Regions from separate parts of the Homo sapiens genome. Here regions 1, 2, 4 and 5 are each linked to region 3. Evidence: fine-mapped expression QTL. A gene starts in region 3. Each other region holds a variant in brackets. All regions are shown on one strand. Distances are between the middles of the regions. Region 1 has its middle 25 kb from the start of HMGB3. Region 2 overlaps CD99L2 (CD99 molecule like 2). Region 3 holds the start of CD99L2 (CD99 molecule like 2). Region 4 overlaps CD99L2 (CD99 molecule like 2). Region 5 holds the start of LINC02927 (long intergenic non-protein coding RNA 2927).

Evidence for each region. PIP is the estimated chance that this variant, and not a neighbour inherited with it, causes the effect.
Region 1: its variant is fine-mapped to the expression of CD99L2 in spleen (GTEx, PIP 0.98).
Region 2: its variant is fine-mapped to the expression of CD99L2 in nasal epithelium (TOPMed, PIP above 0.99).
Region 4: its variant is fine-mapped to the expression of CD99L2 in lung (TOPMed, PIP above 0.99). The same link has a PIP of 0.9 or more in caudate and pituitary.
Region 5: its variant is fine-mapped to the expression of CD99L2 in tibial nerve (GTEx, PIP above 0.99).

What each region holds. Positions count from the first base shown.
Region 1 is chrX:150,955,337-150,961,348 of GRCh38, reverse strand. It overlaps the pseudogene RNU6-383P. Among named protein-coding and RNA genes, the nearest start is that of HMGB3, 25 kb to the left of the region's middle. The variant C/G (reference allele first, on the strand shown) is at 3,070.
Region 2 is chrX:150,846,449-150,852,460 of GRCh38, reverse strand. The region is part of intron 1 of CD99L2 (CD99 molecule like 2); the gene reads left to right. Among named protein-coding and RNA genes, the nearest start is that of CD99L2, 49 kb to the left of the region's middle. The variant G/A (reference allele first, on the strand shown) is at 3,384.
Region 3 is chrX:150,895,072-150,901,083 of GRCh38, reverse strand. CD99L2 (CD99 molecule like 2) reads left to right here and starts at 2,416. Exons shown (of 11, transcript NM_031462.4): 1 at 2,416-2,562. The coding sequence starts at 2,496. RefSeq lists a silencer at 2,132-2,741.
Region 4 is chrX:150,766,376-150,772,387 of GRCh38, reverse strand. It overlaps CD99L2 (CD99 molecule like 2), which reads left to right. Exons shown (of 11, transcript NM_031462.4): 10 at 2,019-2,084; 11 at 3,287-6,012. The coding sequence ends at 3,354. Among named protein-coding and RNA genes, the nearest start is that of MTMR1, 76 kb to the right of the region's middle. RefSeq lists an enhancer at 1-522 and a silencer at 4,591-4,700. The variant G/A (reference allele first, on the strand shown) is at 3,433.
Region 5 is chrX:150,916,705-150,922,716 of GRCh38, reverse strand. It overlaps LINC02927 (long intergenic non-protein coding RNA 2927), which reads right to left and starts at 5,515. Exons shown (of 3, transcript NR_186570.1): 1 at 5,434-5,515; 2 at 2,781-2,948; 3 at 1,779-1,931. The variant T/C (reference allele first, on the strand shown) is at 2,404.

The DNA.
Region 1 (6,012 bases), 60 kb before region 3:
TGCTGTACTTTTCGGTTTTGTTTTTTAGTTTTTTGTTTGTTTGTTTGTTTTTTGGTTTTTTTGTTTGTTTGTTTGTTTTTAGACAGAGTCTCACTCTGTTGTCCAGGCTGGAGTGCAGTGGTGTGATCTCGGCTCACTGCGACCTCCGCCTCCCAGGTTTGAGCAATTCTCTGCCTCAGCCTCCCGAGTACCTGGGATTACCAGCACCTGCCACCACGCCCAGCTAATTTTTTTGTTTTTAGTGGAGACAGGGGTTTCACCATGTTGGCCAGGCTGGTCTTGAACTCCTGACCTCATGATCCACCCACCTTGACCTCCCAAAGTGCTGGGATTATAAGCGTGAGCTACCGTACCCGGTCTTCTTTTAGGTTCTTTAAGACATAAGAATGTATAGAAAGCTACTGAGATAGGAATTATTTGGGGGAAAGGGGATCTTAGAACCTGATTTTTGAAAGGGCCTGTGGTAGGCTACAAACTGGTCCCCCAGTAGAGATCCACATTCTAATCACCAAAACCTGTAAGTGTTAACTTACTTGTTTTGTTTCCTCTCTCTCTTATTACCCACAATAATGTTAATTTAAATGGCAAAAATAAATAAATAAATAAAATGAGGTTTATGTACATGTGATCATGTTTAGGATTTTGAGATGGGGACACTATTCTGGATTATCTGGGTAGGTCCTACATGCAACCACGTATATCCTTATGAGGGAGGCAGAGAAAGATTTGATGCACAGATGAGAAGGTGATGTGAAGCTGGAGCAGAGACAGATTTGAAGATGCTGGTCTTAAAGATCAGAGTGATGCATCCTTAAGCCAAGAAATGCAGGAAGTTGCCAGAAGCTGGAAGAGACAAGGAATGGATTCTCCCTTTGAGCTTCCAGAGGAAACAGGGCCCTGCCAGCACCTTGGTTTCAACCCAGAGATACTGATTTTAGACTTCCGGCCTCCAGAACCGTGAAAGGCTAAATATTCCTGTTGTTCAAAGCCCCCTAGTTTGTAGTACTTTGTTATGGCAGCCCAGGAAACTAACACAGAGTCCTTAGAGTTCATCTAGTCCAAGGTATGGGCTTTTTCCTTTGTTTGTTTGTTTGTTTGTTTTTGAGACAGGCTCTCCCTCTGTTGCCCAGGCTGAAGTACAGTGATGCAATCATGGCTCACTGCAGCCTCGACCTCCCAGGCTGAAGCAATCCTCCCACCTCAGCCTCCCAAGTAGCTGGGACCACAGTTGGGCACCACCGTGCCCAGCTAATTTTGTTTTGTTTTTAGTAAAGACAGGGTCCCAGTATGCTACCCAGGCTGGTCTCAAACTCCTGGGCTCAAGCAATCCTCCTCGGCCTCCCAAAGTGTTGGGATTACAGGCATGAACCACCATGCTCAGTCTCTAATGATTTTCTTAGCACCGAAATCAATTACTTTTCAAATGAAATCATTGCCTATAGAAACAACAGATGCAAACAGAGGAGTGATGATTGAAAAAGGAGGTCCAGATCCCCACCTGCTAAATCCCCTCAATGGTGGCTCCTGAAGCACCTCCCAGGACCTTCCACCAACAGAGTGTGAAAACACTTGTCTAGTTTCAACCTCATTGTACAGATGAATAACTTGAGCCTCTAGGGGCTGAGTGATTGGCTGAAGGCCTCCCTTAGCAGGCAGCAAGGAACACTTATGGGGAGGAAAACAAGGCAAGTTACTCCTGCCTGCTCTCTCATCTTCCCTTGCCTGGTTTGGCCAAATCCCTGTCTCCCAAGCAAACAACTAAGAATACGTTGCTGTCTCTATATGAATTTTGTTTTTAGCACTAGTTCCAGTTTTGAACAGGGACTGCCAGCTGTGTCAAATATGGCGAGGCTCAAATGAAGTATTTGCTCATGAAGAGCACAGACCTGGAGCAGGCTGTTAAGGCATCTTCGGAGATGAAAAATTACTGCCTGATTCCTCACCTGTATTTGCAAATTGAGTCTCGTGGGTATGACTGCAACAGTGGGTGTGAGGAGGTGGGCAGGAATGAATAGCAAAGTTAACCAGCTGTCGGTGAACCCGGAAATATGAATCCCTAAGTGGATCAAGAAGAGCCCAGATAAGAGCACAGGTGAATGCCACATCACATTTTTCTTGTTGTTGTTAGATTTTAAAACATTTAAGGTCAGTTCTGCTAAAAGGCCTTTGTGGAGGATAAAGAAAAGGTTATAATAAAATATTACTCCCCTTTTCCCTCTGGCCTTGGTACTAACAGACAAGACATTAAAAGTCAGGTTCTCTTTCCTTCCCAAGCATAGTCAAGATAGGATGGCATTTTCTCCTTCCTTCCTTCCTTCCTTCCTTCCTTCCTTCCTTCCTTCCTTTCTTTTTTTGATGGAGTCTCACTCTGTCGCCCAGGCTGGAGTGCAGTGGCGTGATCTCGGCTCACTGCAACCTCCACCTCCCGGGTTCAAACCATTCTCGTGCCTCAGCCTTCCGGGTAGCTGGGATTACAGGCGTGTGCCACCATGCCTGGCTAATTTTTGTATTTTTAGTGGAGATGGGGTTTCACTATGTTGGCCAGGCTGGTCTTGAACTCCTGACCTCAAATAATCCTCCCGCCTTGGCCTCCCAAAGTGCTGGAATTACAGACGTGAGCCACCGTACATGGTAGGACGGCATTTTCAAAGGGAACTTTACAAGGAACTATGAGGAACCCAATGGGGCATTAAACAAACAAGATCCAAACCCTCTCCAGGGGTTAAAAATGACTGACCGTTTACCAAGCTGATTCCGAATTCGCGACCGTTTAGATGCCTATTTCCAGGGCCACTGGCCTCATCCCTGCTACTTGACCAAGTGGCACTGAGAGAAGTATTGCATCCGGAAAGAGGAAGGCCAGGGTGTGTTCCAAGAATGAATCAAATAATGGGAAGCCTAACTAAGACCAGTGGATGAGCCAACAATGCCAGCTGGCTGCTCAAGGCTGCTGGGAGGGAACACTCAGTGCAGCAGATGGAACACAACTGGCAGGCAACAGCAAATGGCATTAGTGTGGCTTCCTTTGTTCCTTGGTGTTGCTAGGGAGGATGTCCTCTCTCCATTCTG[C/G]AGGCCACATGGTTCCACCCTCCCCAAACAGTAGGGAAGGATGAAGGTCCCTAGCTGCCACCCACTGCTGCTCCAACTGAAGGAACAATGTGTCTTTTTAATTTATTTATTATTTATTTATTTATATTTGTTTATTTATTTTTTGAGACAGGCGTGGCTCTGTCGCCCACACTGGAGTGCAGTGGCACCATCATGGCTCACTGTAGCCTCGACCTCCCAGGTTCAAGAGATCCTCCCACCTCAGCCTCCTGGGTAGCTGGGACTTCAGGCATGTATTGCCATGCCCGGATTTTTTTTTTTTTTTTCCCCGAGACGGAGTCTTGCTCTGTCGCCTAGGCTGGAGTGCAATGGCACGATCTCTGCTCACTGCAACCTCCGCCTCCCAGGTTCAAGCAATTCTCCTGTCTCAGCCTCTGGAGTAGCTGGGACTATAGTCGCGCTCCACCACGCCCAGCTAATTTTGAGTAGAAATGAGGTTTCGCGATCTTGACCAGGCTGGTCTCGAACTCCTGACCTCAGGTGATCCACCTGCGTCACCCTCCCAAAGTGCTGGGATTACAGGTGTGAGCCACCACGCCCGGTCTATGCCCAGATAATTAATTTTTTTTTTTTTTTTTTGTAGAGACAAGTTGTTACCTGCTGTGTTGCCCAGGCTGGGGGACCATGTGTCTTTATGCAAAACACACCAGGCACTTGCAGAGGTGGCCAGCTTTCCCCAGAAAGGACCTCTCACAGACTTTTTCTTTCCATTTGTTTGTTTGTTTGTTTGTTTGTTTGGCTTTCAGGTAATGTTGCTTCTCAATTCATGATCTCACCATCATTGGTCTGTGAGATTCTTCTCTGGCTGAATCAATCTATCCATCTCTCCAGTCTTTTTAATTACTGTTTTCCACTCTAATGCTCCTCCCCTCAGTGGCAACCACTCAAGTGTGTGCTCTGTCAAACTGTGTAGAGGGGTGTGTGTGTGTGTGTGTGTGTGTGTGTGTGTGTGTGTGTTTTCAGTAAACATAAGTGGTAGTGGCCTGGAGAGTGTGTTCAGTCTCTTACTGGGTGCTTTTCCACTGAGCCCTGTGTGTGTTAACTGTCCATGCTGCTGTGTGTTCCTGAGTTGCTTGTAACCACTCATTTGCTTCTATTTTTCCCCAGTGGTGGACACCTGGATTGCCTCCAATTCTGTCCTAGCACAGGCTCTGTACAATAAACATCCTTGCATGGGTCCCTATAGCAGGCTCAAGATGGACCCCAAAGGTATCAGGTCCTAATGCTTGGAGTCTGTGAATGTTGCCTTATATGGAAAAAGGGTCTTTGCGGATGTGATCGTGTTGAGGATTTTGAGATGGGGAGATTATCCTGGGTTATCAGGGTGGGCTGGAAAGGAAGTCACATGTTGTATTGGTTTTCTGTGGTTGCTGTAACAAAGTACTGTACCACAAATTTGGTGGCTTAAGACAATAGAAATCTACTCTCTCACTGTTCTGGAGGCCAGAAGTCTGAAATCAAGGTGTCAGGAGGGCCACAGTGCCTCCGAATCCCCTCCTTGCCTCTTCCGGATTCTAGTGGACTCAGGTGTTCCTTGGTTTGTGGCAGCATCACTCCAACCTCTGCCTCGTCTTCACATGGTCTTCCCTGTCTCTCTGTCCTTTTGTCCTCTTATAAGGACAGCAGAAATTGGATTAAGGGCCCCTCCTACTCCAGTATGACCTCATCTTAACAAATTACATCTTCAAAGACCCTATTTCCAAATAAGGTCACTTTCTGAGGTTCTAAGTGAATGTGAATTTGGGGGGACATTATTCAGCCCACTACTCTTATATCCTTATAAAAGAGAAGCAGAGGTAGATTTGACACTCACACAGAGAAGGCAGAGTGAAGAGGGAGCGGAGAGATTCGAAGATGCTGGCCTTGAACATCAAAGCGATGCAGCCGCAGACCAGGGAAGGCTGGCAGCCACCAGAAGCTGGAAGAAGCAAGGAGTGGAGACCCCCCAGAACCTCCTGAGAGAGCATAGCCCTGCTGACATCTGGGGTTCGGCCAAAGGATACTGATTTTGGACCTCTTGACTCCAGAAGTATCAGAGAATACATTTCTGTTGTTTTGAGCCATTGAGTTTGTGATATTTTGTTACAGCAGCCACAAGATACTCAGTCCCTTTGTGGGCCTGCAGGAGAATTTCTTGAGGTTATACCCAAGAATGGGCTTACTGGGACAGTGTGGGCACAGACAAGATTTGGCTAAATGCTACTAGGTGGCTCTCCAAAGCGCCTGCATCCATCTAGCAGGACTCCCAGCAGCGGCACACAATGGTTCCTCCTTCTGCTTATTCTAGCCAACACTTGGCATCATACAGCTGATTTTTGCCAATCTGACATGTGTGTATCCTATGTCATTGTTGTCATTTCCATTTCTCCGATTACTAATGAATCTGGGATCCCAGCATCTCTTCACATACTTACTTGCCAGCCTTTTCAGTTTCTTCTCCTAAGAATTGCCTATGCATATGCTTTGCTCATTTTCCTGTTGGGTCTTTTTCTTGTTGTTTTGCAGAATGTTCTTGCATATTTTATCCATTAATCTCCTGTTGCTTTTAAACAGCAAATATCTTCTCCCCATCTGTTGTCTGTCTGTTAATTCTATCTGTGCTGTCCTTCATGGAAAGGAATCCTTAATTTTGCTGTAATCAAACCTAATTTGAGTGCTCATTTCAGCAACACATATACTAAAGTTGGAACTATATAGATAAGATTAGCATGGCCCCTGCACAAGTTCACGAAGTGTTCCATATAATTAAAACAAATAAAATACAATAACAAATCTAATTCAAGGCTGACAACAGAAGGGTGGATGGGTCAGGGACTATTGTGCAAACAGAGTAAGTGCTACCGTGTGTGTGTGTGTGTGTGTGTGTGTGTGTGTGTGTGTGTGTGTGTTGTGCATGCGTGCAAC
Region 2 (6,012 bases), 49 kb after region 3:
CCAAGCAGAATTTAGTGAAGGGAAGAGATGGGAGGAGTCTTCCGGGCAGAGGGACCCCTGAGGGCCCTGAGGTGGGATAGAGCCTGCTGAAGTTTAGCAACCAAGTGAAGTCCAGAGGTCCAGGGTGTGATGGGGAGCTGTCATCCTGTGCTCAGCCATTGTCCTTACAGGTTTGGAAAACAACCACAGCTCCCCAACTGGCCTCCTACAAACAAGTCTCCACACAACAGAGCGAACTTCTAAAAATGTTGTTTTGGCCAAATGCACTTCTGCAACTCCAGAGTTGGCCCCTTTTAGTGTAAGTTCACCACCCTGGCACACCTTCCTTAACTACCCAGCATAAAGTGGATTTTCACTCTGGAGTAATGATGTGGAGAAGAGTTCTTTCATCCAAGCAGTAGTGAACAATTTAAATGCTTGAAACAGTAAAACAGATGATGGTTATTGGCTGTTGTGGTCAGTAGACTAATGTTCCCTCCCTGCTCAGAGGTCCACATCCTAATCTCTGGGACCTGTGAATATGTGACGTTACATGGCAAACGGGACTTTCAAATAGGGCTAAGTTATGGATCTTAAGATGGGAAATTGTCCTGGATTATCCAAGTGGGCCCAATGTGATCAAAGGGGGCCTGATATGTCAAAGAGGGAGGTAGATGTGATTATAGAAGCAGGGTTTGGAGTGATATACTTTGAAAATGGAGAAAGAGCCATGAGCTAAGTAAGGAATGCAGGTGACCTCCAGAAGCTGGCAAAGGCAAGGAAATGGATTGGAAGCTTCAGAAGGAACACAGCCTGCTGGTGCCCCGGTTTTAACCCAGGGCCACCCATTTTAGACTTCTGATCTCTGGAACTGCAAGGTCATAAAATTGTCCTGTTTTGAGCCACTATGTGGGAATTTGTTATAGCACCAATAGAAAATACAGCTGTCTCATCATAGCACTTTACTTTTAGAGCACCTTAGGGGCAGGCATGTGTGGGGGAATCAGACCTGTCCAGCTGCATGACCCCGTGCTGCTGCATCTATCTGAGCCTCAGCTCCTCATTGGTGAAAGAGGCTGCTCATCGGCACCATGCCAGCTCACAAACCACTGAAGTGTTGATGCCATGTGTCTGACATGGCAGCTGCTCCTTGCTAGGTCCTCAATAAGTGGATGTTGTCCTATATTATCTAATCCCATCCCTTCCTTCTACAGAATGGGAAAAGGGAGGAAGAAGATGGGAGCAATTTGCCCAAGTTCGAAGGCACAGAATCAAGTGAAGGATTCAGATGTCTTGACTTGGAGGGGAGGGCTTTCACATTTGGTTAGAAAATACTCATGGTAGGCTGGGTGCGGTGGCTCACACCTATAATCCTAGCACTTTGGGAGGCCGAGGCAGGCAGATTACCTGAGGTCAGGAGTTCAAGACTAGCCTGGCCAACATGGTGAAACCCTGTCTCTACTAAAAATACAAAAAATTAGCCGCGTGCCGTGGCACGTGCCTGTAATCCCAGCTTCTTGGGAGGCTGAGGCAGGAGAATCACTTGAACCCGGGAGGCAGAGGTTGCGGTGAGCTGAGATCGTGCCACTGCACTTCTGTCTGGGTGACAGAGCGAGACTTCATCTCAAAAAACAAAAAAAAAAGAAAGAAAAAAAAGTACTCCTGGTTAGAGAGTTTCTTCAGTCCTGGATTGGCTGTGATACAAGAAACACCTCACTTCTTAGGCAGCATCTGTACAATGTTGTTGCACCTGGGGCTCAACCCATCAGTGGCCTGTGCAAGTAGTTGAGTTGCAACTAGCATATTGAATGAGATAAAATGGAATAGGAAATATTAGTCCTTCACACAAATAAGATCATCCTTTGTTGCAACATTTGTTTCTATGGAGTATCACTTTGTTGTACTGTGTTTCTATCACTTTGTTGCAACATTTATCTCTGTGAGAATCACTTTGTTGCAACATGGGTAGCCCTCTGGTGTAATATTTGTTTCTATGTGCACGTCCGCTGGTGCCTACATGTTCTAGGTAGGGATGGGAAATTTGGGATCCCTGTCAGGGGCATGTGTTCTGTGAAACTGGGGGATAAACGTGGTCTACTAAGTTGCTGGGCTCTGAGTGGTGAGCATGGCCACTGCTGAGCTGGCCTTAATGGTGAGGTGCCTGCTGCCAAGCCTGGCTTGGTTCATGTCTTAAGGGACACATGTGGGCTGGAATGTGGCTTAGAAAGTAGGCAAGCTAGATTCCACTTTAGGACATACAGGAGACTTTCTTTGGGCTCCTCCTGCTTCCCTCTCCAACCTGATCAGGCATGTTCAACAATCTAGACTTGCAGGATATTTGTCATTTCTAGTTTTTTGTTTTGTTTTGTTGTTTTAATTGGCTTGTTGTGTCCTCAGAACATCTCTATTCTTGGCATACCTTCCCCACTGGGCTTGTAAACAGGCACAAATACAGAGTGGAAAAGGGGAAAGGTCAGCTGAATAGCTGTAATTTTATTTTGCGTAGTATTAAATGCTTATTTAATTTATATTATATAGAACTGGCTTAGGGATTTAGTTGGCCAGATCAAGCAGATGTGGGCCTAGTAATGTTCCTTGAAGTTGTCATACATCCTATCTCCCATTTTCTACAGATGCAGGAATCAGTGGGTTCTTACTCACTTGGAAGATTTGTGGTGTGGAATGAGCCAGACTGATTGCCTGCTTCCATGACAAGCTGGCTTCAGAAGGTTATGGAGCAGGATGTACTGATATACAAGGGCTAGCTCATTCTGTGTTTTGTTTTGTATAGTTTCAATTTGAGACAGAGTCTACCTCTGTCTCCCAGGCTGGAGCGCAGTGGTGCGGTCATGGCTCACTGCAGCCTCAACCTCCTGGGCTCAAGCAATCCTCCCACCTCAGCCTGCTGAGTAGCTGGGACTACAGGTGTATGCCACCACACTTGGCTAATTTTAAAAAACTTTTTGTAGAGATGGAGTCTCACCCTGTCACCCTGGCTGGCTCAAGTAATCCTCCTGCCTCAGCCTCCCAAGTAGCTGGGACTACAGGCATGTACTACCATACCCAGCTAATTTTTAATTTTTTAAAAATTTTATAGGGACAGGGTCTCACTATGTTGCTCAGGCTGGTCTCAAACTCCTGGGCTCAAGCAATCATCCTGCCTTGGCCTCCCAATGTGCTGAGATTACAGTCATGAGCCACCGTGCCTGGCCTCATTCTGTTTTTGACGCTGCTCACCAGATTGCTTAGTCAGTGTTTACAAAGCACCACAGAAGTGCCAACGGCTGTTGGGGCTTCATCGCCTAACTGTGTACACAGGTGTTGAATTTGAGTGTGATTGTTGATAGAGGCCACAGTCTGCCATTAGGTATATTTGGGAAGGGAATTTGAGCAAGCTGTTTCCC[G/A]GCAGTATGACGCACATGGACAAGTTCATGGAGAAAAGTTGCACAAGTCAAAGGGAGGAAGTGGTTGAAGTGGAGGTTGTGGTGGGGAGACAGGATCTCCTGGTGCGGGTAGCCAGTGACCCTTAGCACGGGATCCACATGTCTAAAGGAGCATACGACAGCAGGGGACAAACTTATTCTTTGTAGTGCCAGGGTAATCTACTGGCCAGTTTTGGGGTCAACACAAAAAACTTTCCAAAAACGTGACTCTTCCAACGAATGAATGTACTTCCAAAGCACATGCCTGGGTCCCCAGCCCAGTGAATTCTGAGGGGGAGGAGGTTTCTGAGGTTGGTCAGCTCATCCTCCCTGGCTGAGAACCTCTATTATACACTGGAGATTACTTTGCTGCATTTTAGGGATGGTCAATTAGATGATATTTCAGATTCTGTCCAAAGTTAACATGCCTTGAGATAATTGGCTTTGTCTTTCTGAATTTTGATTTTTAAAAAGCATCACTTGCTGTTTTTTTTTTTTTTTTTAAATTGTGGAAAAAGAACCCACATAATACTTACCATCTTAGATGATTTCTAAGTGTATTGTTAGTGGTGTTAAGGGTGTTCACATTGTTGTACAACCAATCTCCATAACTTTTTTATCTTGCAAAACTGAACCTCTAATCATTAAGCAATTTCCCATCTCCCACTCTCCCCAGCCCCTGGCAGTCATCATTCTACCATCTATCTCTGTGAATTTGACTACTCTAGGGACCTCATAAAATGGGAATATAGTATTTGCCTTCTTGTGATTGACTTATTACACTTAGCATAATGTTTTCAAGGTTCACCCATATTGTTAACCACTTGCCGTTATTTTATTTCTTCTTTTCTGCATTTTCTAAGATTTTCACAGTGGACACACATTATTTGAAAACAAATAATATAATTTATGTAATACTGTGAGAGGTATAGTACAAGGGGGGGGGGGCCTGCAGGCCATAGTTAGGCATATGGAGCTTATATTCAGTGTAGTGAGGAGGCCTTTGGGAGTTTTGAGCAGGGAAGTGATGTGCCTTGAAGTTTGTTTAAAAAGGAAAAAGGAGGACTCCCTGCCTGCTGTGTGGAGAATGGATTGGATGGAGCATAGACCTGGAAGGAGCAGGAGGATGGTGCTTGTGGCTGTCCAGGGGAAAGATGATCGCTGCCTGGCTTGGTAGTGGCAGTGGAAAAGTGGTGGGCTTTGTGCATGTGCTGGGGGTGGAATTGACAGTTCTTGGTGACAGGGTGGCTATGGAGAATGAAGGAGAAGATGTCGGGACAGTGTACAGCTTTCTGGCTTGGACAATGCAGTGGGTGGCTGTGCCATTCAGTGAAACAAACAGGGAACTCAGGAAAAGGGTCTAGGTTGGAGAGCCAGGGCTTGGCATTTAGTTTTGTGGATTCTGAGTGGGAGCTGGCTGTGAGATACTGAGGAGTGATTTGAGAGGGAGCAAGCAGATACAGCAAGGATAGATAGTCATTTTATGAGTTTGGTTATGAAGGGGTGGGAGAGAAAGCAGTATCAAGATGGGGATGTACAGTCAAAAGAGGGTTTTCTAGTTAAAATGGGAGAGATTTGAGCATGTTTAAAAATAGATGGAATGATACTTCCCAAATTGAACTACAGATTCAACACAATCCCTATCAGAATCCCAGCTGTCTTTTTGCAGAAATTGACAAGCTGATCCTAAAATTCATACAGAAATCCAAGGGACCCAAAATAGCCAAACAAGCTTGAAAAACAGGCACAAAGTTGGTAGACTCACACTTCCCCATTTCAAAACTTACTACAACACAACAGTAGTTAAGACTGGGTATTACTAGCACAAGGATAGCTGGACCAGGATTACTAGCACAAGGGAAGACAGAGTCCAATTCAGGACATGCTTCCTTGGAGGTGCTATGGAAATCTCCCCTGGGTAGCAGGACCTGCAGGATTGGAATTGAGGACAAAGGTCTGGGTTGGGGATACAGGGTAGGAGGTGCCTCGTGCTCAGCGCCTTTCTCCCTCTGCATTGGCCTGGCCAGATGGCAAGGCTGAAAATCTTGATGATTTCTGAGGTCCTGTTCCACTCTGCCTGGCTCTGATTTGGAAATGTTCATACATGCAACACCAACTAGACATAGATTCTTACCTGACTTAAGAAAGTACACAGGATCCATTGGTGTTTATGCTGCCTTCAGGGGAAGGAAATACCATGTGCATTTGTTATTAGTCAACAGACTGATTTGGGGTGGCCTTGTCCAAATCACTTACATTCTTGTGCCTCAGTTTCCCAAACTTATGTCGTATCAGTAGAATCTAAAGGCTTATCAAGCACTGGGTGAGTTTAGATTAGAGTGTGGCTTTTTTCTCTCTTCATCCATTAAGCTTTTGAACATTTTAATGATTCTCTTATAAGCCATTTACTCATGCATATTTATTGAAGGCCTTCTACTTACTAGTGGATTCTACTTAATACCAAATTTAATAATAATATTAGCTAACATTTGAGGGATTCCTATGTCACATATTGTGCTAAATGCTTTATATATAATGATTATTTAATCCTCACATTAACTCACTGCAGTAGGGTCTCTTGTTATCTCCATTTTATAGATGAGGAAACTGA
Region 3 (6,012 bases):
TGTTCATCCTTGCCATGGTTCAATCTGCTAGAACGGAGGTCAGTAAACTTTTTCTGTAAGGGTTAGACAGTAAATATTTTAGGCTTTGTGTGCCCCATGGTCTCTATCACAACTGTTCAACTCCACTGTGGCAGCACAAAAGCCACCATAGGGAATACAAAAATCAATGGGCGTGGCTGTGTTCTCATAAACTTCATGAACCCTGAAATTTGAATGTTGTATCACTTTCTCATGTCATAACATTCTTTTGATTTTTTTCAACCATTTAAAAATGCAACCACTACTTTTAGCTGGAAGGCTGAACAAACAGGTGGGAGTAGGATTTAGCCCACGGGGTGTAGTTTGAGAACTATTCTTGAGCTAGAAGACAGTCTTATTGCATATGGCATTGTAGCACCTTTAGCAGCTAGAGTTCCAGTTGAGTGTGACTGTCCACTGCATATTGATTGACATGGCCTCAAACTTAAGAGGTTACATGCTTCTCACCTCCTCAGTGTAGATGAGTGTGTATGCATCAGGGTTTACCCATCAGATCCTGGAAGACTCCTAAAGACCAGAAAATCTACTGCCCTCCAGGTACAGATGGTACCACCAGGGCCTATGGAATGGCTCAGGGCACTTAGTAGCAAAGGTGGGGGCATGTCCACAGCCTGGAATAGACAGTAACCTCCTGACCTCACAGTGGCCACTATTTCCTTAGCCGTTACTAGATTAACCAGTAATGGTCCCTGCCCTCTGTCACTGTGTGCAGGCTGTCCACTTTTCACCACCTCATTTAATCCTTAGCACAACCTTGTTGGGTTTAGCCAGGATTTGTACCCGGTCTGGCTCTACAGCACACATTCTTAGCCATTCACCAGCTGGGGTTCCTAGTGGTACCCTCCCCCTTTGACACATGAGACTAGACCTGGCTAACTCCCCAACCTCAAGGAACCTCCATTTTGCTGCTTTTCCCTCGTTAATAGGTGATGATACATAAGGCATTGTGAGGAATAAAAATTAAGGGTAAAATGCCTGGAATATGCCATGTGTATAGTGTGTGTTCAATAACTACCAGCTATTTCTGTTAATTCTACAGCTAGAATGGAATAATGTTCCATTCATAGAGTAATTAATGCCCTGAGCCTGGGAAGATCCACTCCTCATATGCTGTTTTGTTTCTGCAGCCCTAAGATTCAGGGCAATGGATGTAAGCCACACGGGAGATTTCGGCTCCATCTCAGGGAGACCCCACACCCCACTGTTCCTTAGGGGTTGGTGGGAGCCACTGAGGGGGGTGCCTATGGCAGCGAGGGCTGGGTTGGGGGCACAGGAAAGCTGCCGAATGGATATTGAGGGGAGGTGGTAGTAGCCGCCCTCTAAGGAGGATGTGGCCCTGGGCAGCCGGTGCCGCATAATGGCAGGGACAGGCTCACGCTACCACTCCGGAGAGCAGTAGCGCTTCCTCTTTGTCTTCGAGAGCCGGTTGCAGCTGGGGCTCTTCTAGGGAGCGTTCCCATCAACTGCTGCAGCGGGCATTTTGCTGGTCGGCACAGTATCGTATCGGAATCTGATTTCTTCGGGTCTGGGAGACGGACTCCGTTTGCGGGGGTTCATGGGAAAGGACTGCAGCGCGTTTGTCGGTCATTAAGCACGTTTTTGAGATCGACTCTGCAGATATGAACTTGCACTTTCAGCGCATTCATCAAAGCCTCGGGAGAGCTGACCCAGTCCCTACCCCCAGTCTCCCGAGCCCGCGGCGCTTCGGCTCCGGGACGCCCCCATCCTCCCCTGTCGCCCACCCGGGCGCCCCCGGCCTCGTTTTCTCGAGACGTGTCACTGCTTGTTGACCGCAGCCAGTCACGAAAACGGTCCTTTTCTTCAGTCTCCGGCCAGGGTTTCACTCCTGCAGGGAACAGCGGGTGGGGACAGAGTGCGGGGCTCCGTGCTGGACGGTGTCTGGAGGGGCCCCAAGGGAACAACCCTTCACCGGGAGAACACCAAGGCCAGAAGGGGAAGAGCCCTTCTCAAGGTCACCCGGGAGGAAATCGGCGCCCACCGGCGCTGCCGCCTCCCGCTCCCCGGCACTGGTGACTCACTGCTCCAGGTCCGCGGGGCCACCTCCGAGACTTCGGTCTCGAGGACCGAGGTGGGACAGGGTCTGCGGACCGCGCGCTGCCGCTGGACCCAGCCCAACCCAACCCAGGCCTCCCCACCCACCGGGTGCCCGCAGGCCACGCCCCTCGCCCGGAGCCCCGCCTCCAGAACGCGGCCCCGCCCCCGATACTGCAGCCTCGCCCCGCCCCCCGGCCTAACCCCAGCCCAGGCGCCCTCAGGCGCCGGCTCTCTAGCGCGCCCGACCTCCATCTTCCCGGGGCCGCGCCGCGCGCGCGCGCGGGCTTTGGGCGGGACCCTGCAGAGGCGGCGGGGCTCCTCCTCCCGCTCCTCCTCGGCCTCCCCTTCGGGCGCTCTCGCGCTAACTGTGCTCCTCCGGGGCCCTCCGCCTGCTCCCAGCCATGGTGGCCTGGCGCTCGGCGTTCCTTGTCTGCCTCGCTTTCTCCTTGGCCACCCTGGTCCAGCGAGGTAAGGCGGGCGGGGGGCGCGCGGGGACCGCGCGGGGACCCCGCCTTGTGGGCCCAGGGGTCGCTCTGCGCATGAGCGGCACGGTCCCCGCCTCTCGGGCCTGCGGTGGCTGCCACCGGCCGGCCCGGCTGTGCGAGGCGGAGCGGCGGGGGTCCGAGCCCCGGGCCCGTGGGGGTTGACTCCGCCGCGGTCGGAGTAGCCGGAGAGGAGGGGTGGGTCCCCTCCTGACGCTGGGCTGGAAACAGCGGGATGGGCCCCCTAAAATCCTGAACGAGCAGGTGTACCACTGGTGACAACAGCTGTCCCCAAGAGTTTACCTTTGAGAAAACCTTGAAGAGAGCAGTCATTTTCGAAATTTGCTGCGAGGCCACCGACAGCAGAAGCACCTGGGGAACTTCCTAGGTGGATTCCTAGCCCCTTTCATCGGGATCACAGCGGGCATGGGCTGTGGGGGGGGGGGGGGGGGGTCAGCGAGGCGTAGGTCTAACCAGCTCTCTAGGTGCTTCTGCCGTCCGCTTCAGTTTTTGAGACTTTGGTCATGTTTTGCCAAGGAGCAGGAGAGAGAAATCCCGCTGAATCAAGGAAGCACGTTTCTTAGACCCTCTGCTACTCAAAATGTGGTCCAGGGCCCAGCCGCATAGGCATCACCTGGGAGCTTGTAAGAACTGCAGCATCTCACGCCCCGCCCCCGACCTACTGAGTCTGATTCTGCATTTCAACTAGATCCGCGGGTGATTCTCTGGCACATTCAAGTTTGAGAAGCATCTTAGTAGAATAAATGCAGTCTGTGGTTAAAAATAGGGTCTTAAACATGTACCAACAGAATCTTCTTACACTTATTTATATCCTATGTCCCCATCAGAAAAAGGGATTAAGGGAAACACTGTAATTGAACGTGAATTATGCTCCAAGCTTCCTGACAATAGAAGCGAACCCAGCTGGTGGAAAATATGTGAGCTCAGGAAACACACACACACACACACACACACACACACTTTGTCCTAGTACTGAGTTCTAGTAAGATTTATGTCACATAAAGGAACACTGGAAAACAGTGGATGGTACTAGCCAAGCCACTTTTGCAAAAGATGCAGAAATGTTTTTCATGTGGGCAACCCACCTGGAGTTGATTCACGAAGAGCCATTTAACATTCTGCAGAGGTGCCAGGCTCTGTTCTAGGAACTGATGATGCGGTAGTGAACAAAATTGAGACTGTCTTCATGGAGCTTACATCCTGGTCCGGGCAGAAAACAAGCCCAACATTGAAATCTATATATATTGTCAGTGCTATGGAGAAAAATAAAGGAAGTTACAGGGGTAAAGAGTTGTTGAATTTTCTTTTTCATTTTCCCTTTGGGATAAAATTTTTATTTTGTTTACAATGCATTTGTAGGAAAATGTATGATCATTTGATTGACTTGCATCTAATGACATGGAAATCTTGAAAGTAGAAGCACAAAAAAAGTTAGAAAAATGATACTCCCTTCAAAGCTGTCTTCTGAAAGTCTTCAACATGGTGTGCCCGTTGAGAAGGTGGGGAATAGAAATGATTGGGTCTCAGATTTGCACGTTACAATTGTTGATTTAAGAGGTGGTAGAGGAGACAGAAACAGTACATCTGTTTTATAGATGAGGAAACAGAGGCACAGAGAGGTGAAGTAACTTGCCTTAGGTCACACAGCGATTGCCAGAATTATGATTTGATGCAAGGCTTGTCTGACTGCGCAGTCACTGCCTTTAAGCCCTAGGCATATGCCCTTGCACCTGGAGGTACCCCACTTCGACTACTTAGGGACCATGGGAAAATGAGTTCCCCGAACTTGTTTGATCATCCATATGATGCCTGACAATCACAAAGGTGTTTTGAGGGGACCAGGCTTAGATCTACAGCCTTGCTACCAGCTACCATCTCCTGAGTTCTTCCTGTGTGCCAGGCACTTCACATATATTGCTTTAAATTGCCTCGACAATTTTGCAGGCTAGATATTATCACTGGCTTTCAGATGAGGGGGCCCTGGTCATATAGCTCAGAAGACATAGAGCCAGGATTCAACCCAGATAAGACTGCTACCCAGTTATCTTTTATTGTTTAAATTATTTTTAATTAATTAATTAATTTTTTTGAGACGGAGTCTAGCTCTGTTGCTCAGGCTGGAGTGCAGTGGCCTGATCTCGGCTCACCGCAACCTTCGCCTCCTGGGTTCAAGCAATTCTCCTGCCTCAGGCTCCCAAGTAGCTGGGACTACAGGCATGCGCCACCATGCCCGGCTAATTTTTGTATTTTTAGTAGAGATGGGGTTTCACTGTGTTGGCCAGGCTGGTCTCGAACTCCTGACCTCGTGATCCGCCCGCCTCGGCCTCCCAAAGTTCTGGGATTACAGGCGTGAGCCACCACGCCCAGCTTATTGTTTAAATTAATTAACTGAAACCAGAAGCAGCTTTGGTTTCAAGATAAGGGCCCAGTTTTCTGGATCTTTTTTTTTTTTTTTTTTTTGGAAACAGAGTCTTGCTATGTCGCCCAGACTAGAGTGCAGTGGCGCGATCTCGGCTCACTACAAGCTCCACCTCCTGGGTTCACGCCATTCTCCTGCGTCAACCTCCTGAGTAGCTGGGACTACAGGCGCCAGCCACCACACCGGCTAACTTTTTGTATTTTTAGTACAGACAGAGTTTCACCATGTTAGCCAGGATGGTCTCTATCCCGTGACCTCATGATCCACCTGCCTCGGCCTCCCAAAGTGCTGGGATTACAGGTGTGAGCCACCGTGCCCAGCCAACAGTTTTCTGGATCTTTTGTCCAAAATAAGATAATACGATTTTTGCATTGGTGGTCTTCTCTGGGATCCTGGTAGTCTCAGAGCTGCTGCGTCAAAATGACAAACACAAAGCAAGTGCCTCAGTTAGGCACCAGTTGGCTCTTCTTGGGCCCTGGAGTGGCATTTTGGGTAGGCCTGCTGAGAGCCACTTTATTCTTGGTCCTGGTCCTCAGTAGTGGGATGTGGCTGAGTAACCCTGGCAGACCTCAGAAAGCACACAGAAGCAACTCTGCATAATCTGAGAAATCCTTCCAGGCTCTAGCAAGTAGCAAGTAGAGGCTGGCTTTAGGCTCCCAGGAGTTTAAAGGGCGGTTAACAAGTTATCTTTGTTCTAATTACAGAGGGCTTTTCAGTCTGCTGTGTATTTTACTAGTTCCAAAAAGTCCTCTGAGGACAGGTATGCTGCCTGTATGTGCCTCCAGAAATGGGAAGCTGTTCTTTTGAGCAGCAAGGAGAAGACTGTCAGTGATGTGGATGGGTAGTAATCTTAACAGGAGCTTCATTTCTGGAACACCTATATGCCAGGCCCTCTGCCTCGCCACATTACCCCGACCTGTTGGCACTGTGACCCATATCACCTCCTGATGTCCATAGTGGCCCTTTTACATAGAGTCTTACAGGTAACTGTTTGGT
Region 4 (6,012 bases), 130 kb after region 3:
AGGCCTGGAGCAGCCTCTCCCAGCCTGTGGTCCTACAGCGCCCCCTGCTGACCTCACCTGGTGCTCATGGGGCGGGATTGGGCCGGTTGGTTTCTGAGTGTGCGACTCCCAGCTCGCCTTGCCCCCTCCGTGATCAGGAGTCTCTGGACCGTCCATTCCGTGGCGGGGCTGCGTGTACATCATGTCCCTGGCACCTGGCCCGGGCCAGAATCAGGAGGAGTCCCGCAGACGTTTGTGGGGTGGCTGAAAACACTGAGAAGCTGGGGGTTGGGCCTCCTGTCCCCACTCTTTCCCCTGAGTCTCAGCCACTGCCACATGGAGATGGCGGTAGAGGGGACCGGGGTGCAGAACACCAAGCTCTGGGGAGACAGCAGGAGGTGGCTGCGAGGAAGGCCTGCCCCCACCACTGTGGCCCTCAGGTGCTCTCGGCCTCTGCTGCTGCCAAAAGGCCCATGCTGGGGACCCTTGGCTTCCCTTGCCTTTGCCCTCAGTGTGGAAAGCCCGCATGTTTGCTGTCAGGAGCGCTCTTACTCCAGGGATTCTAAGCTTTGTGTCTTGCCTTCAGATGCAGCAGCAGGTCAAGGTAACGCTGCTTTGCCTTCCTCACTTTCCTTTTGCTTCAGCCTTGATGCTTCCTCATTCGCCCCCTGCTCTGGCGCTTCCTTGCCGCTCTTCTCCCTCCTGCTTCCCTGGCACTCACCGACGTGGCTGTAACCAGGACCATCTTTAGCTTACCCTGATGCGTGTGAGAGGATGCCACCTGCCAGACACTCTGTCCCCAGGCTGGATGTGGCAGGGGTGGGGGGAGAGTTGAGGTGCCATGGTGAGGACTCAGGTGCCCACTGGTGGTCATGCCTGGGGAGCACATAGAGGGCCACCCACAGGAAGGAGACGATCCAGCGCCCACTGGGTTGGCAGCTAGCAGTGATCACGAGGCTCAGGGTGTGTCTCCTGGCCCCCACCTGTCAGCTGGGAAGGTGCACCTGGGGCAGCTTCCACTGCACTCATCACCTGCCCCGCTCTGCGTGGGGCCGGCCACACCTGCCAAAGAGCAACGCCCGCATTTGCCACAGGCCCATTTGGCTCCCACCTCAAGCCCAGCAGCCACCGGGGCAGGCAGGTGGTGGGCATTCTTGTTTAGGCAAGGAGCCTGTAGCCCAGGACGATGGCTTGACTTGCACTGGTGCCTGGTCGGTCGGTCGGTCGGTTGGAACCATGCCCCAGTTTTCCCACAGACCCGGGGCTGAAGGGTTCCAGTCCCTGTGCTACGCAGGGATGAGACACAGACTCTTGACTCTCTGCAAGCAGCAGCAGGGGTGGGGTCCACTCTAAGAACTTGAACACTGGCCCTTGCTGGCGGGAGGGAATGCTTGGTACAGTCCCCGAATCCCTCTTGTAACAGGTGTAGAGAAAGCCTAGATAACTAACTAGACTGAAGCAGCTGCTGGTGGGCTGGCCCCTCCAAGCTCAGGTGGACACAGCGGTTATTCCTGCTGCTGGGAGGAGCAGTTGGCCTCCGCGCGGGTGTTGCTGGGAGGCTGCATGTTGGCAGGAGGCTTTGCTGCATCTACATGCTGAGCCCCACTCAGCCATCCGCCCCTCCCTGCCCTGCATCCATCAATCACTCATAGCGATTGGCTCCCTGGCCCCCGGGCCGCACACGCACACGGACCTGTGGATGGTGCTGAGCCCTGCCATCGGGCGCCCCCTCCACTGGGCGGAGCTGCCGTCTTGACGCGGTGGCAGCTGCCCTATGAGGATGGAGTGCCGGAAGCCTTCGCTGCATGTCGTTGTTATTTCTGAGGACGATGATGAGAACTCCTGGGCAGTGAATTCTGGGACGAACAGTCTTCATCCGGATAAGGATGTTCAGGTGGCTCAGGGTGCAGGGTTTTGAGTTCCCCAGGGGAGCTGTGCTGCTTTTTTAGCTGCAGAGGACTTGGTCAGGAGTTCTCAGTCACGATTGGGGACCCTTAGGTCCTGTGCGCATCACTAACTCTGCCCTTTTCCCTTTGCAGAGGGTCTCAACGCAGACTACGTGAAGGGAGAGAACCTGGAAGCCGTGGTATGTGAGGAACCCCAAGGTGAGAACTTTGTACTCACTGTCCCTTGCTGACGCTTTCCTAGTTGGTCCCAGCACTGAGCAGAACTGTGCTAGAGAAGCAGGGAAGCACAGAGGCGTCTGCTTCTAGAATGTCCGGCCAGAGCAAAAGCCTGCCCTGATGAGCCTGCCTCCCAGTTTCAGGAGCCCAAAGATGCTGGGGTGACAGCCAGGGCCATCTGCTGCCATGCCTGTGACTTCTGGGCATTGCGGCTGCTCGGCCCCTGCCCTTGATTCGTCCGTCCGAGCCAGAGCCCCAGGCACCTCTGCTCCCCATCAGCGAATACAATTACATCCTGAACAGAGCCATGGGGAAGCTTTTCACCTAGACCTAGAACTTTTCCCTTTGCAAATTGCCACAGGCAAGAGGGAACTTGGGTAAAACCCAGACCCTATTGTCAACACCTGTGCCCCTCCCTCCCCCTTCTGTGGTCATCAAGCACTTTCTGGATTCAGGAGCTGTTGGCAATTTGAGGTCGCATAAGTTCAGGCCACAGGCCTAGAGTGCCCAACTGCTCGAGGCAGATATGACCTGTGCCCACGGGATGCCAATGAGGAGGTCCGGAAAGGCTTGCTGGGGTCGGGGAGCAGCCGAGGCCTGGTGGCGCAGGCAGGGAGACTAGGACAGCTCAGGCGAGTGTTGCCAGTGGAACTACAGTGCAGCAGCCGTGGGGACTGGGCCTGGGAGACCAGGAGGGGCTCAGCCTGTGTGGTGTGTACTGGGAGCCAGGTGCCCTACAATGCTGCTGAAGACGGGTGGCAGTGCTGCACCAAATGAACTAAAATAGGCCTGGGTTCAGATGTGGAAAAATGGATTCCGCTGTCGCATCCACTGTCATGAGCTTTGCCACGGTTAGCCACCACGAGGCCAGCATCTGTGTGGGCAGGTGCTAGGTTGAGCCCTTTGTTTAAAATAACCCTTCCAGCAGCGCTGGCAGGAACACGCTCATTTTTTAGGTGAGGAGATGGAGGCTGAGCTGTTTCCAGAGCCTGTCCAGCTTTCTCTTTCTCTCCCCTTGACCGGCCCAAAACTGCTCCCAGGCTCAGGAGGGAAGGTTGCTAAGCGGCCCCCCAGGGGATACAAAGGGAAACCCAGTTCTGTTCCCAGCACGGGCTTGCTGCTGTATTTGCTTCTTCTGTGCAAGACAGAGCAGAATTCCTTCTGACGGCCTCTTTTTCCCCTAGTGAAATACTCCACGTTGCACACGCAGTCTGCAGAGCCGCCGCCGCCGCCCGAACCAGCCCGGATCTGAGGGCCCTGTCCAGCTGCAGGCATGCACAATGGTGCCACCGCTTGTCACCCGGCTCCCCCCACCCCTTCATTTGGACCC[G/A]CAGCTGCTGTGCTGCTCTGTGCCATCGGCTCCTTGTTGGTCTGAGTTTCCCGGATGAGCTCTGGGTGTTTGTGAGTTTGGTTTCTCTGCCCTGCCCCAAGCGTGCTGAGACTTGGTGCCGAAATTCAAGAGCCAGCTCTGATAGAAAGCCAGCACCAGCCTCGGGAGCTGCTGAGCCACCAACTCCCAAAGCCAGCCTGCCTCCAGCTTTACTGAGCACAGGATGCGGGGGCCAAGATGATGCTGAGGCCTGATGACATTTATGCTTAGGGGACAAGAGTTTGAACTCAAGGGACTGTGACCCCTGCACACTGGAGTGGCTCATTGTGGCAGGTTTCTGCCAATAGACAGCCCCTGACAGTGGCCTCAAGGAGCTGCAGGTGGGGGGCTCAGCCTGCACCCACTTGGAGCCCCTGCAAGGAGCGAACCGGTCAGCACCAAGTAACACCACACACACGCAGCACCCAGGATGATGGTTTCACTTCAGTCTTCCCCATCCCAGGTTTTATGTTGCTGGGCTTCCGGAGAGCCGGTCCAAGCGGAGGCTTTCAGTGATTTAAGTACAAACATGCATCTCGTGATAGTCCTGCCTTGAGAGCTTAGGAATCTTCCGGATAAGTATGAAGCAATTCGTAGGCCTGTTTCCCATCTGATTCCATAGGGGGCTGGGTGTGGCCTTCGGGTTGACATGAGAAAGGTCTTTAGCAATCATTTCTGCACCGGAGATGAGTTTTATCCTGTGTTGGGGAGAGGTGCTCACCCTCCACCCTGTGTCCCTGTTTTGGTAGCAAGAGTGACCGATGTCAAGAACGAGCATCAAAGCCAGAATCCTGCTTGTTTGCTTAAAAATGTAATTGGGGGCGGCGGGGGAGGAGAGGGGAAAGAGACATTCGCTTGGTTTAGTGAAACGCAGGTGACTTTGTAGCTCTGTGGTCAGCCTACTTGTCTGCTCTGAGGGAGAGTGCGTGGGGAGCCATGCTCACCGTGGCAAACACAGGAACCCCATGACTCGCCCCTCACCTGGCGTGGAGCTGCCTGGTTTGGGCTGGAGCAGAGCTGGTTTCCTGGAATGTTCCTTTGGCCCACATATGGTTCTGTCCCGGTGAGCTCTGTTGTCAGAGGCTCACGGGACAGAACCACATGCTAGGGTCTAGGGCCCCTGTCTACTGATAGTCAGTTTGCTGTGTCAGAAAGCACTTCTGAAAGCAGATATGAGTCACCAGACAGGCAGGATCTTACAAAACTCACGGGCCTCTTTGGTCTGCATGATGGCCCCATGCGTTTCATAGGCTGTCCACTGAGCGGGATTGTCTGCTGAGTGGGATGAGCCAACTCCAGTTTCTTAAGGAAACCACTGGAATCTGCAGCCCCCACATGCATCTGTCTAACGCATGCCTCGTGTTCGTTTTGCAAACATGCCTGTGGTGGAGGGTGGTCAGTTGTAGCCCTGTGCGTCTCAAGGCTGCCTTGTGAGGCCATTCCCAGTGCGTGCCCTTGAGCTCCTTACCACCCCTTTTCCTGCTCGGCCCTTTAATCCCTGACAGACCTGGACTGTGTGGCTGAAGGGGGACCTGCAGCACTGCAGAAATGCCTCTGCGTGGTGCCATGAAGGAAAGAAACCTTGGCCTGGTCTCGAGAAGCTTCCCATGCTTCAGGAAGTTAGTAAGGGTGGGGTGGCTTGCAGGATTGGCCTGTTTCCAGGGCCTCCCACACTCATTGGCCAGATTGTGAACTTTGTCAGGCTTGTCCCTCCCTGATACCAAGTATGTCGAGAACCGATGGCCCCACCCTCTGGCTGGTGCTGGGCCGGAGGTGGCTATGGAGGATTTTGGCATGCGTGGCCTGTCGCCACCTGGACAGCGTGACCTCAGGGGTTGTCCACTTTACCTTTATGGTGAGGCCTGTCGGATGGCTAAGTCCTTGAAACCCTAGAGCTGTGACGTAGAATATGTGCTGTCTGTGAGACCGTGTTCCCAGGAGCACTGACTGCAGTTGAGAGAGACCCATTTTGCTCTCCCTTACCGCCCCCCGCCCCGGGTGCTTTCTGCACAAAGCCTAGAGCCTGGCACTCAAGCCCACCGGTGGCAGCTCCTAGTGACTGGACATGCCTGGAAGACCCCTCAGCCTTCTGTTTGCAGAACGTTCATTTCAGGAGCTTCTCCTTCCCACAGACATCTTACACTTGCTCGACACTGCCACCTGCAGAAGCCTGGCGGGCTCTGGTCACCATGTGTCTATCTGAAGGTTGCACTGGCCAGCATGGGCCTGTCCCAAGCGAGAGGGGAGACACAGTGGACTGAAAGGACTGGTTGAAAGTGGCCAATCTCTATCAGCTTAATTTGGCAGAGAAAATTTGTAACAACTCTGAGCACATGCTGGGTGAAGTCACAGCTCAAGGAAAGATAAAGCTGGGCGGAAGGAGGTGTGCGTGGCTTCTGGGGTGGGACCCAGAGGGGAGGCTCTGGGACAGGGGCTGGGGTTCAGTGCCAGGGCCCTGAGGAAGAAATGGGGACTGATCTCAAAATTCCAGAATTCCCTGTACATCTGTTCACGTGCTTGTGTCCAGGTGTGACTTGTAAA
Region 5 (6,012 bases), 22 kb before region 3:
TTTTTTGTTTTTGTTTTTATTTTATTTTGTTTTTAAGACAGGGTCTTGGAGTCAGGTGTGGTGGCTCACGCCTGTAATCCCAGCACGGTGGGAGGCTGAGGCGGGCAGGTCTCGAAGTCAAGAGATCGAGAGCATCCTGGCCAACATGGTGAAACCCCATCTCTACTAAAAATACAAAAATTAGCTGGGTGTGGTGGTGTGCACTTGTAGTCACAGCTACTCGGGAGGCTGAGGCAGGAGAATCGCTTGAACCCGGGAGGCGGAGGTTGCAGTGAGCCGAGATCATGCCACTGCACTTCAGCCTGGCAACAGAGTGAGACTCCCTCTTAAAAAAAGAAAAAAAAAGACAGGGTCTTGCTCTGTCACCCATGCTGGAGTACAGTGGTGCCATCTCTGCTCACTGTAGCCTTGACGTCCCAGGTTGAAGCAATCCCCCCATCTCAGCCTCCCAAGTAGGTGGGACTACAGGTGCATGCCATCATATCCGGGTAATTTTTTGTCCATTTGTTTGTTTTTGTAGAGATGAGATTTCGCCATATTGCCCAGTCTGGTCTCAAACTCCTGAGCTCAAGTGATCCACTTGCCTCAGCCTCCTAAAGTGCTGGGGTTACAGGCGTGACCCACCACACTTGGCCGACAAATGAACTTTGAAAACATTATGCTAAGTGAAATAAACCGGACACAAAAGGCCAAATATTGTTTGATTCCACTTATATAAAGTACCTAGAATAGTCAAAATCATTGAGAGCAAATAGATTAGAAATCTCCAGTGGGGTCTGGGGGCGGTGACTCACGCCTGTAATCCCAGCACTTTTTTTTTTTGGGAGGCCAAGGCGGGCAGCTTGCCTGAGGTCAGGAGTTCGAGACCAGCCTGGCCAACATGGCAAAAACCCATCTCTACTAAAAATACAAAAATTAGCTGGGTGTGATGGCGCATACCTGTAATCCCAGCTACTCGGGAGGCTGAGGCAGGAGAATTGCTTGAACCCTGGAGGCAGAGGTTGCAGTGAGCTGAGGTTGCACTGCTGCACTCCAACCTGGGTGACAGACTGAGATGCCATCTCAAAACAAAACAAAACAAAACAAATCTCCAGGGGCTGGGGGAAGGGAGGGAGTAATAGCAAGTATTTAATGGGTATGGAGTTGCAGTTTAGGATGATGAGAAAGTTCTGGAGATGGATGGTGGTGACAGTTGCACAATATTGTAAATGTACTTAATGTCAATGAATTGCATACTTAATAGTGGTCAAAATAATAACTTTTATGATATATATAGTGATAATAAAATGTTTAAAAAAGACATTTACCACTTAACCATTTTAAAATGTACTACCTGTGGTTTCTAGTACATTCACAGAGTTGGGCAATCACCATTATAAAATCAATTTTAGAATATTTTCTTCACCCTACAAGAAACCCTGCACCCATTAAGGAGTCATTCTTCATCCCTCTCCCCCCAGCCCCTGGAAACCATTCATCTGCTTTCTGTCTCTGTGGATTTGCCCATTCTGTACATTTCATATAAATGGAATCATACAACATGTGTCTGATTATGTGTCCTATCTTCTGTGTCTGGCATTTTCCATTTAGCCTAATGTTTTCAAGGTCCATCCATGTTTGAGCACAGATCAGTATTTCATTTCTTTTAATGGCTGAATAATATTCCATTGTATGACTGGATCACATTTTGTTTATCCATCCATTGCTTGATGGACATTTGGTTTGCTCCCACTTTGGCTATTATGAATGATGCTGCTATGATCATTTGTGTACAAGCATTCCTGTGAACATGAGTTTTTATTTCTCTTGGGTATATATCTAGAAATGGAATTTGCTGGCTCACATAGTAACTATGTTTATCAAGACGCAACTTGCAGTAGAATCCAGCGCATCAACTCTGAGTCTCTGAGCTGTTGGAGGACATAGACAGCCTAGAAAACAGAAGGGCAAAGGCAATTGAAAGAATCTCCTTTTTAGCTCATACTTCCATTTTTCTCCCACCCCAAAGTGGGTCTGTTATTGAGTCACAAAATTGACAAGTTTGAGTTTGAGCTCCCCTCCTGAGCTGTGAAATCAACCCAAGAGTAGGGTTTCAGTTGGCAGAGGGGTGGTCAACTGGTACATCTGGAGTTGACTTTGTCTATTATCTTTCTAATCATCCCTTTAGCCTAGAAAGCCTTTGCCTTTAGAGCTGTTGGGCCAAAATCTAAAATCAGCTTGTGAAAGTGCTGTCTCGCAGCCTCCTGGTATGTGAGAATTTGTCCATACTTGATACACAAATAACTATTTTGCTATTGACTGTTCCTCAGCCTGATCTATTCAAATGAATCTCTTTGAAGACATGCCACCTACAGATCACGGTATTTCAACAACATTTGAACTCTTTCCAAGTATAATCTGTAA[T/C]AATTTCTTCATTTTCACAATATTTGCCCTTTGAAACAGGCCCTGAGCTTGTGCGTTTAAAGGGGGGAGTGGGATTTAGAGAATGTCAAGCAAGCGAAATGGTTTAGGTTGGTTCATTCTGTTCTGTGCCCATGAATAGCGCTTGATTCATGGACCGCAAGTGGAATGTTGAACAGGACAGGCTCGTCATGGGGTACAGCAGAATTAGACTCAGCATACTCTCCAGACTTTCTCTCTCTGACCAGATGGGCAAGCCAAGCCTCAAATAAGCACAAATCCTCTGATAACAGTTTATACTTCCAAACAGCCCACAGGAAATGGGACCCTTGATAAGAGAAGCAGCTTCACTTGTAAATTACAAGCATTCACTTACTAACATTTAAACTGACAATTATCACAGCTTCAAATGCTGGGCTCCATTGGAAAGCAAGTCAAGTTGTTCATCTGTTGGGTTGGTGGCTGATCCCTTCTGTGGTTTGCTTACAAGTGAAAACCCTGCTGCTGGTTGGAACCCATTCTGCTTGATTTGGACTTGACAGAAGTACCTGGTACAAAGGAAAAGACCTTTTAGCAGGGAGAACAGGGTGGCAGGTGTGGCCCCCAGGGGGCCACTGAAAAGCCACAGCAGGGTAAGTCACACTGCCTGCAATGCTGCAATGGCACTGAGCCCATGTGAAGGCACAAGGCCTGGTTTATGTTGCCACTGCCTTCCTGTGTGACCTTGGACAAGTTGTTCCCCATTTCTGGGCCTCAGTCCCTTCCTCTTTAAACATGGGGGCTGAAGCAGATTACACTGAGGGAGGCCCCTGCTCTATTGTGCTGTGCTTGGAAAGCCTCTCATGTAGCTCTCAATGCAGATCTGATGAAGAACCTGCAAGGACATGGATTACATTTCATTTTCTTTTTCTTGTTTCTTTTCTTTTTTTTTTTCTTTGAGACAGAGTCTCGCTCTATTGCCCAGGCTTGAGTACAGTGGCGCTATCTCAGCTCACTGCAACCTCCGCCTCCTGGGTTCAAGTGATTCTCTTGCCTCAGCCTCTTGAGTAGCTGGAATTACAGGTGCCCGCCACCAAACCCGGCTAATTTTGTTTTGTATTTTTAGCAGAGAAGGGGTTTCCCTGTGTTCGTCAGACTGGTCTCGAACTCCTGACCTCGTGATCCGCCCACCTCAGCCTCCCAAAGTGCTGGCATTACAGGCGTGAGCCACCGCGGCCGGCAGCATTTCATTTTCAAGAGATGAAGGGGTGTGTTGAGAAATGCACTTTACACATGTACCCTAAAACTTAAAGTATAATAATAATAAATTTTAAAAAAAAAGAGAGAAATGCACTTTAGAATTGTGTTGTCTGGAAAGGATAGGCTAGGCCCCAATTCAGCAGCTAGACCCTGGCCTTGATCTATATAGAATCTTAGAAATCGTTTCAGTGTGTATGCTTTCCGCATTCATCCTGTTTCTAAAGACACGATGACTCCTTTTCTTGACAACTAAAAGCTCCTGGCATGAGCTCTCTCAGTCTCACTCTCTGAGCTCTGGATCACAGGGTGAGTGTGGAAAGGTGGGCAGAAAAATCTGTGTATGATTCCGTTCAGCCATGGGTGGGACGTGGCAGAGCCTCAGAGGTGTGTCTCAAATGTGGGGCTAACCAAAGGACCTGCCAAACCTCTTTTTGCTTTTCTCTAGCAGTTTTGGAACCCAGACTTTCCATATTATCCTGGCTCAACCCTCATGCGGGAGGAGAGTCATGGGGCCTCTAGGTTGAAAAGGACCTCAAAGGGAGACTAGGCTGGATATCTTGAAGAATGGGAACTCCCTTCCTACAGAGGCAGCTCCTCCATCTTGAGGTTGTTCTGCCCCTTAGGAAGTTCCCGAATCCAGCCAGGCAGGCATGGTGGCTCATGCCTCTAATCCCAGCACTTTGGAAGGCCAAGGCGGGGAGGATCACTTGAGGCCAGCAGTTAGAGACCAGCCTGGGCAACATAGTAAGACTCATCTCTACAAAAATAAAAATTAAAAAAATTAGCTGGGTGGGGTGGCATGTATCTATCGTTCTAGCTACTTGGGGGGCTAAGGCAGGAGGATTACCTGAGTCCGAAAGTTTGTGTCTACAGTGAGCTATGATCATACCACTACACTCCAGCCTGGGTGACAGGGTGAGACTCTGTCTCTTTTAAAACAAGAAAGTTCCAGAGTCCATCACCCTGTAGCTTTTCCCCTTTATCCTTATTTTCATAAGCTGAGGCCACAGAATACAGATCAAATTCCCCAGGAGCTCCCTCCAGGAGTCTCCCTCATCACTCCTTTCCTTTTTACCCCTTACAGTCATCTTTTTCTCCGGTCCAAACACTCACCAAGATTATTCATTGTATGAAAATTCCGACTTCCATAGGTCAGGTGCAGTGGCTCACACCTGTAATCCTAGCACTTTGGGAGGCCAAGGCGGGCAGATTGCTAGAGGTCAGGAGTTCAAGACCAGCCTGGCCAACATGATGAAACCACATCTCTACTAAAAACGCAAAAATTAACTGGACGTGGTGGTGCATGCCTGTAGTCCCAGTTACTCGGGAGGCTGAGGCAGGAAAATCGCTTGAACCTGGGTGGCAGAGGTTGCAGTGAGCCAAGATCACACCACTGCAGTCCGGCCTGGGTGACAGAGAGAGACTCTATCTCAAAAAAAAAAAAAAAAAGAAAAAGAAAGAAAAGAAAAGAAAAGAAAATTCTAACTTCCCTTTAACATCCTGATCACTGGCTCCTGAAGCAAATCCAGCCTGTTAATGTCTCTCAGAGAGGCTACTGGTACCCAGAACATGACATGCATCCAGGCACTGTGAGCTGACCAGGAGATGAGTGGGATATCACCTCTGTCCGTCTAGAGCAGAATAAGCTCCTCAGAGGGTATAGGGATAAAAGATGTACAGAACTTTCTGTTGTGATTCAGGAAGCATCTCTAACTCTCTTAGCCCGTTTTCTGTTGTTTATAACAGAATACCCCAAACTGGGTAATTTATAAGGAAAAGGAATTTATTTCTTACAGTTGTGGAGGCTGAAACGTCCAAGGTTGAGGGGCTGCATCTGGTCAGGGACTTCTTGCCGGCGGGGATTCTGCAGAGTACTGAGGTGGCAAAGGACATCACATGTCGAGGGGGCTGAGCATGCTCACTCAGGTCTCTCTTCCTTTTCTTATAAAGCCACCAGTTCCACTCCTGTGATAACCCATTAATCCATTAAACCATGAATGGATTAGTCCACTCATGAGGGCAGAGCCCTCATGACACAATCATCTCTTAAAGGCCCCACCTCTCAATGCTGCCACACTGGGGATTATATTTCAACACGGGTTTTGGAGAGTAAAAGTCCTGAAACCATAGTAATAACCCAGATGTCTCTTATTGTGCCTCCTTCTCTTCCCACCTACTTAGCCAACATAATAACAGTTAAAACAAAACAATACGAAAGGATATCGCTTGTTGAGAGCTTACTATGTGCCAGGCACTGTTCTGTGCACTTTCCATGTGTATCAATGTGTTTCCTCTACACAAAAGCCTTAAGATGTAAGTGCCATTATTTTGCCCATTTTGTAGATCAGGACACTGAGGACCAGAGAGGCAAGG